Homo sapiens: one gene and its partner. The protein of the gene in region 2 interacts with the protein of the main gene of each other region in a pairwise test. Each region holds a gene or a part of one and is shown on either strand. Other genes may lie near its edges. The genes, in order: CBS and SLF2.

Evidence for each region.
Region 1: the proteins of SLF2 (region 2) and CBS interact in a two-hybrid assay, tested with the Homo sapiens proteins (one large-scale study listed by BioGRID).

What each region holds. Positions count from the first base shown.
Region 1 is NC_000021.9:43,058,556-43,062,335, forward strand, and holds part of CBS (cystathionine beta-synthase), read right to left. Parts: coding exon 3,756-3,780; intron 1,992-3,755; coding exon 1,886-1,991; intron 749-1,885; coding exon 671-748; intron 414-670; coding exon 279-413; intron 1-278. UniProt on the Homo sapiens protein: Hydro-lyase catalyzing the first step of the transsulfuration pathway, where the hydroxyl group of L-serine is displaced by L-homocysteine in a beta-replacement reaction to form L-cystathionine, the precursor of L-cysteine.
Region 2 is NC_000010.11:100,922,826-100,926,671, reverse strand, and holds part of SLF2 (SMC5-SMC6 complex localization factor protein 2), read right to left. Parts: intron 2,698-3,846; coding exon 1,700-2,697; intron 724-1,699; coding exon 653-723; intron 1-652. UniProt on the Homo sapiens protein: Plays a role in the DNA damage response (DDR) pathway by regulating postreplication repair of UV-damaged DNA and genomic stability maintenance.

The DNA of each region.
Region 1 (3,780 bases), on a different chromosome or scaffold from region 2:
TCTCTCCCCTGACCTCCAGGTGGGCCCAGGACAGCCTGCACACAAAGGGTGGGTGGGCTGAGGTCTGAGGGCCTGGAGTGAGCACGGCAGCCCTGCCCCAGGCTGCTCAGGGACCGGCAAGGGGCCTCCAATGCCCTGAACGTCTGTATGAGGCGGCCCAGGCGGGCCTATCAGCCCAGCTGCAGGGTCTGCATGGCTGCCCTGTCCAGTGACACTGACGGGGTGGAGCTGGGCAGACAGAACCCAGGACTGAGCTCTGAGCAGGGGCTGAGACTGACCCCGCCTCATCCACCACGGGCGCCTGGTCGAAGCCCTTCTCCCGGAGGATCTCGATGGTGTGCCCACAGGTGATGGTCGGGAGCACGGTCAGCGGGGCTGACAGGCCCAGCTCCTGAACACGGAGGTGCCACCACCTGAGGGAAGAGGGCAGGTCGGGGGGATCAGGATAAGGACAAACGCTCTCGCACCCCCGCCGGCAGCACCTCAGCAGGAGGCCACAGGGACCGCTCTCCTGCCTGTCACACTGGGCAGGGCCAGCACAGGCCACGGGGACCGCTCTCCTGCCTGTCACACTGGGCAGGGCCAGCACAGGCCACGGGGGAGTGCTCTCCTGCCTGTCACACTGGGCAGGGCCAGCACAGGCAGCGGGTCTCCGGCCGAGCGGTCTTACCAGGGCTTCTTCTCCGTGAGGTCCTCCTCCTTCAGAAAGCCCTTCTGCAGCATCCACCTGTCGCTCAGGAACTTGGTCCTGCGGGATGGGGGAGTCACCGAGTCCCCGCAGGGCCCCACCGGGCCCCCGCCCCTGCTGAGTGGCACGCACTGCCTGCCCAGCCCCTCTCCTGGACCTCACTGGTGCAGCAGAGACCCCCAAGTGCTGGCTGGAAGCCCCAGGGGGAAGCCTGGGGGCTGGACTTCCCGCCCCCATGGCCAACAAGCGTGTGTGAGCATGCACACAGCCATCGCTCAGGCACTCAGATAAACACGTCCTCTCATGCTCGCTCTCTGCCCCTCACACACTCACACGCACAGGTACACATGGCAGGCTGGCCAAGTATGTGGGGAGATGGTGTTCTTGCACTGACGGGGGTGGGCAGGAGCCCTGCACAGGGCATCTTGACCCTGGGCACCAGATGTGAATCACCCCACACTGGGGAACCCAACTGGGGGCACCCACCAGCCAGGCCTGGCCCTCCAAGGGCAGCTGAGCTCTCGGGAGCTGTGTAGCCGCTGCAGCTTGCAGGCCATGGAGGAAACCCTGCAGGTGCAGGGGACAGGGCATGGGGGTCTGTAGACACCCGCCCTGGTACCGCCTCCGGAGACCAGGTGCAGAGCAGCGCCAGTCTCAGCCTGGCTGCCCGGTGACCAGCGAGGTCTGTGGCGTTACTGTCCGAGGGGCCTCTGGGCAAAACAGTCACAGCAAGTCCTAGGGGGCCACCTGGGCAGCACTCGGTCCCAATCTGGAGTTTGGGGGAAGCAGCAGAGGGAGTCAGGGTGGATAGGAGGTGGCACAGGGCCCGGCCCAAGAGGACGTCAGTCCATGTGGCCAGGGCTACCCGTTGGAGCTCACGGACCCCAGAGCAGTGAGGGGGACAGACACCAGAGAGGAAGGGACAGGAGGGACAGAGAGGGAGCCACCGTCTTTCATGCCCCTCCTGTCAGGGCTGTCACTGCGAGTGTGCATTGATTTTCACAGCATTAAGAGGCTGGGAAGCCCCACAGCGTGAGGGCACGTGGGCAGGAGAGTGGAGGCGGTGCTCACAGGGCCCCGCTGGCCTCCTCCCCTCCCAGTTCTGGCTGCCGGTTCTCAGGTGAGGCGTGAGAGGCATCCAGGGAAGGGTGGCAGGATGGAGAGGAGCAGGGACCTGGGAGGGAAGCCGTGTCTTACATGTAGTTCCGCACTGAGTCGGGCAGAATGACCACGCAGCGCTGGCCCTCCTGCAGCTCCTGCGCGGCCTTCACGGCCACCGCCACCGTGCTGCCAGCACTGCCACCTGCAGAGAGGGCCACGAGTCAGACGCGCCAGGGTGAGCGTGCGTGGGTGCACACGTATGCATGAATTGTGCACGTGCACGCATGGGAGCATGTCAGACACACTCCGAAGGATCCGTCAAGAGGGGTTGCCTCGGGGAGAGGGGCTGGGAGGACCCCACTTCTCCGTGAGCATCGGCTTCTTCCTTGTGCACCATGGAGTTTCTGTGTCCACTCGGGGCTTCATAATGAGCTGGGGTGGGCACTGGTGCCAGGGAAATGCCTGCAGTGGGGCTGCGGCCCCTGGCAAACCTCCTGGCCCTGAGCCTAGAGCCAGCGATGCTACGAGGACGGAGCCCCCAGCACCACGCCTGCAGGCTGCCTGACTGCACACTGGGCTCTGCTTTATAAACAAGAGACCAAGGCTCACAGTGACACCAGCTGTCCCTAGGAGCCCTGAAGTCAGAGTCAGAGGCGTCTTCTCTGGGCTTAGTTTGAGGGTGCACACAGCAGTCGGGAAGGTCTAAGTCTGCAGTAGGAGCCCCCACAGGAAGAGAGGCACCCTCCTCTGTAACGGGGCCCATGGACCTGCTTTCCAGCCCCAAAGGCAGGGGCTTGTTTCTCCACCAACATGGGGAGCAGGGAGACTGAGACAGGGAGAGCCCAACGATTATGGGCACCAAGTCACCTTTCGTGACAGATTCATCTGGAAAATGCTTTTCTTTTCTTTTTTTTTTTTTTGAGATGGAGTTTTTGCTCTTATCACCCAGGCTGGAGTGCAATGGCGTGATCTCGGCTCACTGCAACCTCCACCTCCCAGGTTCAAGCAATTCTCTTGCCTCAGCCTCCCGAGTAGCTGGGATTACAGGCATGCACCATTACATCGGCTACTTTTTTTTTTTTTTTTGGTATTTTTAGTAGAGACGGGGTTTCTCCCTGTTGGCCAGGCTGGTCTTGAACTCCTGACCTCAGGTGATCCACCCGCCTCGACCTCCCAAAGTGCTGGGATTATAGGCATGAGCCAACGCGCCTGGCTGGGAAATGGTTTTTCAATCAAGACTTTCTTCCAATCTCTAGTTTGGGGCTCAGCTAACGGGGGACTTGGCCATGCTGAGGGCTGGTTTCCTTCCACTTTCCCTGTCACCACCCCCAAAGTGACATGACACACGGAATGCACATGTAGAAACCTCACATGTCCCTGCCTGCGTTTTAGAAGCTGGTGTGTGCTCTCCGAGTCCCCAGAGGTCTAGATCAACTGTGGTCCCTACAGGGCCTCTGCTGCCTGTGTGGCTAGTCAGTGGCATTGCCAGCGGCCACCTGGTCTGTCCACCCCCAAGCAGGTGGGCAGAGGGGCACGGGGTAGGAGGAAGGTGAGCGGGGTCGAGCTGGACAGCCTCAGGCTCCAGTCCCCTCCCCAGCTGCTCCAGGGTGCTCGCAGCACCCAGTCCCGGCCATGGGCCCCGTCAATGCAGAGCCACCGCCCCAGGGGCCCTGGTGGACTTGATTAGAAACAATAAGTGCCATGAGAGCTTCAGCCTTGTTCTAGAAACACATTCTGGAAGGCAGCTCGAAGCCCCGCCCCATGGCCTCCTGCCCTCACCTGAGCAGGTGACCACACTGGGCAGGCAGACAACACCTGAGGCTCGTGGCCGCCGCAGTGACACTCCTCAGAACTGCTGTCTTACACATGCAGGTCGGTGGCTGACTGAGGGTGCGCCCCCAGCCATCCCCAGTGCCCCCTAGCCATCTCTGCCTTCCCCATACCCCCGTGCCCGCCACCCACTCACCGCACAGCAGCCCCTCTTGCGCGAT
Region 2 (3,846 bases):
GCCTCCCAAAGTGCTGGGATTACAGGCGTGAGCCACTGCGCCTGGCCCCCCACTTTTTTTTTTTTTGAGACGGGGTCTTATTCTGTCACCCAGATTGGAGTGCAGTGGCTCAATCACAGCTCACTACAGCCTTGACCTCCTTGGGCTCAGGTGATCCTCCCAACCTCAGCCTGTTGAGTAGCTGGGACCATAGGTATGTGGCACCATGACTGGCTAATTTTTGTATTTTTTGTAGAGATGGGGTTTCACCATGTTGCCCAGGCTAGTCTCAAACTCCTGGGCTCAAGAGATTTGCCTGCTTTGGCCTCCTAAAGTACTGGATTACAGGCATGAGCCATCACACCTGGCCTCTTTTTTTCATTTGAGACTGGGTCTCACTCTGCCACCCAGGCTGCAGTGAAGTGGCGCCATCACGACTCACCGCAGCCTTGAACTCCTGGGCTCAAGTAATCTTGCCTGGGTCTCCCAAAGTGTTGTGATTACAGGCATGAGCCACTGCGTCCGGCCAACATATCTTATTCTAACACAGTTGACAACAGAGTCCAAAATGCACGCTAATTTCTCATGATTTTTTAAAAAAGGTAAATTAAAAGTAAGCCACACAAACAAGCAAAATGTTAAATTTAGCAAATTAATCTTTATGCTAACAAACCTTTGTGTGTCTTCCATTTCCTTCACTAGACGTTCTAAGGTATTTGTGTAAGTTCCAGGATGAACATGTCCCTAAAACAAGAACATTTAGAAATACTTTACCACATGTCTTAGTAGAAGAACTGGGATGTTTTAAGTAATTAAGGGTACGAAAGACTATTTTCTATTTCAATAATCTGGGCCAGGATAACACCTTTCTTAAAGGATAATTTTCACCATCATGCTTTAAATCTAGTATTTTGCACTGCAGACAATTTGATTTTACTACCTATTAGGAAAGGCAGTACTTATAAAACCCTGCTAACTTTGAGATGTGACTGCAAACACTCAAGGACTCTGTGGCTACCCTGTCTTTACTTTTAAATTCTATTTTAGTAGAATCAAACTACTAATTTTTAGGTGTTACCATGGAATATTAACACCTTCCCCACCAAATTTTACAGACATCTTAGAATTTAATTCAGCTTATTCCCAAGATAGAATGAAGCACTTTATAAATAAAATTGCACACCACAATCAACAACATTTCTACACTCTACCTTCATTTACAGATGTGGTCTCCAAAGCAGGGGGTGTGCAAGGTGATCCATTGGGGTGCAGGAAGAAAATAATAGAACTTCTATTTATATGGAACTTCTATAGAGACTCCAGTAGAACTTAGTCTATAGTAACTTCTACGTCACTTCTACAGGAAAATACTTATTTTTCTCTTCTTCTTCCTTTTAAATTCTGTTTTTGCATATGCTTTAGAAAGTACACAGTATTACAGTGGTACATATATATAATCTAAAGGTATACATATATGTTGGGGTACATGCTCAAAAATTGTTAAGTGTGTGTGATCAAAAGAGTTTGGAGACCACTGACTTACAGTAATAAAACTAAAGATATGGAAACTCATTTACCAAACAAGAATTATTCCATTTTCAGTACAAATATGAGTTATAATAAATACTAAATTTTAAAGTAAGTTCCGATAATCCACCCCTTTCACTAATTAATCATCTTTCCCTCTTCAAGTAAAGATAAACGTCACAGAACTACTTACTGTATAGTCTGATGACTGAGATCTAAGCCCCTTGGAAAGAGCAGGAGGCTTTCCTGTAGCTGCAGGAGTCTGATTGAAGTTCAAAGCCATTATTTCTTCCAGTGACTTTAATGTTTCCTCTTCCTCATCACTGTCTAGGTTGTAACCTAAACTTTCTTCATCACTATCAAAATCACCCCTTAGTTTTCTTTTCAGTGCACTGCTACCTGCATTGGAATTTCCTGAACTCTCTCCTTCTGAAGGGGCTTTATCTGAAGGTGCTGCAGGGCTTGGGATACATGGCACAACTTCCAAAGCAGCAGGGGGAGACTTTGTAGGAGTGCCATATTCTGAGCGCAAAGGTCCCCCAGAAATTTTCCCTGAAGATACATTAGAATCGGCCTTATTAGTCTTTGCTTTGTGTTCCTTGTGTTTGGTGGATTCTGTAGAATGCCCAGAACATTCTTTAGATGAGGAACGCTCTTTATCTTTTTTAGAAACTGGAAGAGCACAATTTTTAGCATTTAATGGTACTAGAGAGGAACCAGCACTTGGAACACGGGAAAGTAAAGGTAGTTTTGTCTCCTTCTCCTTTGTCGTGGAGCTAGCGGTTTTATTTTTCTGAAGGTTGCTAGCTTTTTTAATTGCAGACTTTTCCTGAGATAAAGGTAAGTGGGGTTTCTGCATCTTAGTCTCCTTGGTACCTGCCACTTGGATTTGGTCACTATTCCTGGTAGAATGGTGGCCAGAATTGCCAGAATTTGAAGGTGCCAAGCCTGCAGAAGAGCCATCAGTTTCATCACTCGGTTCCTTGGATATATCTTCTAAGCGCAACACATCACCAGGTGTCTTCAGTGCAATATGTTTTATAAATTTTTCTTTCTGATGTGGTCCATCAGGACGCTTCTCAAGGAAGGACTCTCTTGCTTTTGGTATCATAGATTCTCTTGTGCTTTTCAGATCTGAGTCCACAGAGTTCCTTTTTCTTTTTTCAGGGAATTTATTCTGCTTAGAGCCTGCTAAAATTTAATTTTTGTTAGATTAGTGAAAAATATACTTTCCAACTTTAGTAAAGTTTATTCAGTGTCTAGAACACCCTAATGAAAGGTTTAAAATTCTAAGTATTAAGGCTGAGATTAGTCACCATATATGGAATGCAGAAAAAGAGTTACTTATCAACTGGATAAATACTGGTGTCCAAGAAATTTAAAGCTAATGACAAATGCTCATTTTCATTCCAAAGCTATGAAAAGTTTACCACCTTAACAGAATTAAAGATGCCACTCCCTAAAACAAACAACTGCATATTTGTACCAAGTTAAGGATGCCATAGGTACTTCTGGAAATTCTTTTAGACCTAGGACTACCTGGTTGCAGAAATGTAACACTTCTACATTTAAATGTATAGTACCTTAAAACACGTATAGGATAAACACTTGAAGGCAGATAAATGTTAATTTCTCATTAAAAAAAAAAAAATCACGCTGTGTCCCAATGCAGTATGACTGGTGTACTTACAAAAGGTGTCTTTGTCTTTGGAGACAAAGACAGACATGCACAGAGGGAATACAAGGTGAAAATACACAAGGAAAAGATGCTATGTGACTGGAGTGATGCAGCTGTAAGTCAAGAAATGCCAAAGATTGCAGGCAAACACCAGAAGCTAGACGAGGTAAGGAAGTATTCTCCCCTAGAGTTGCCAGAGACATTACGGCCCTATTGATATCCTGATTTCAAACTTCTAGCTTCCAGAACTGTGAAACAATAATTCCTGTTGTTTTAAGCCACCCTGGTTTTGGCACTTTGTTATGGCAGCCCTAGGAAACTAATATAAGCTATATTTATTATAGCCCCATCCAGAAGTACTTTAATAACCACATACATTTGAATGAACCAGTTTTTAAAAATTCATATTGTGGGCTGAGTGCGGTGGGTCACACCTGTAATCCCAGCATTTTGGGAGGCCGGAGTGGGCAGATCACTTGAGGTCAGGAGTTTGAGACCAGCCTGGCCAACATGGTGAAACCCTGTCTCTACTGAAAATACAAAAATTAGCCAGGCATGGTGGTGCGTGCCTGTACTCCCAGCTACTTGGGAGGCCAAGACAGGAGAATCGCTTGAACCTGGGAGGTGGTGGTTGCACTGAGCCAAGACGGCACCACTGCACG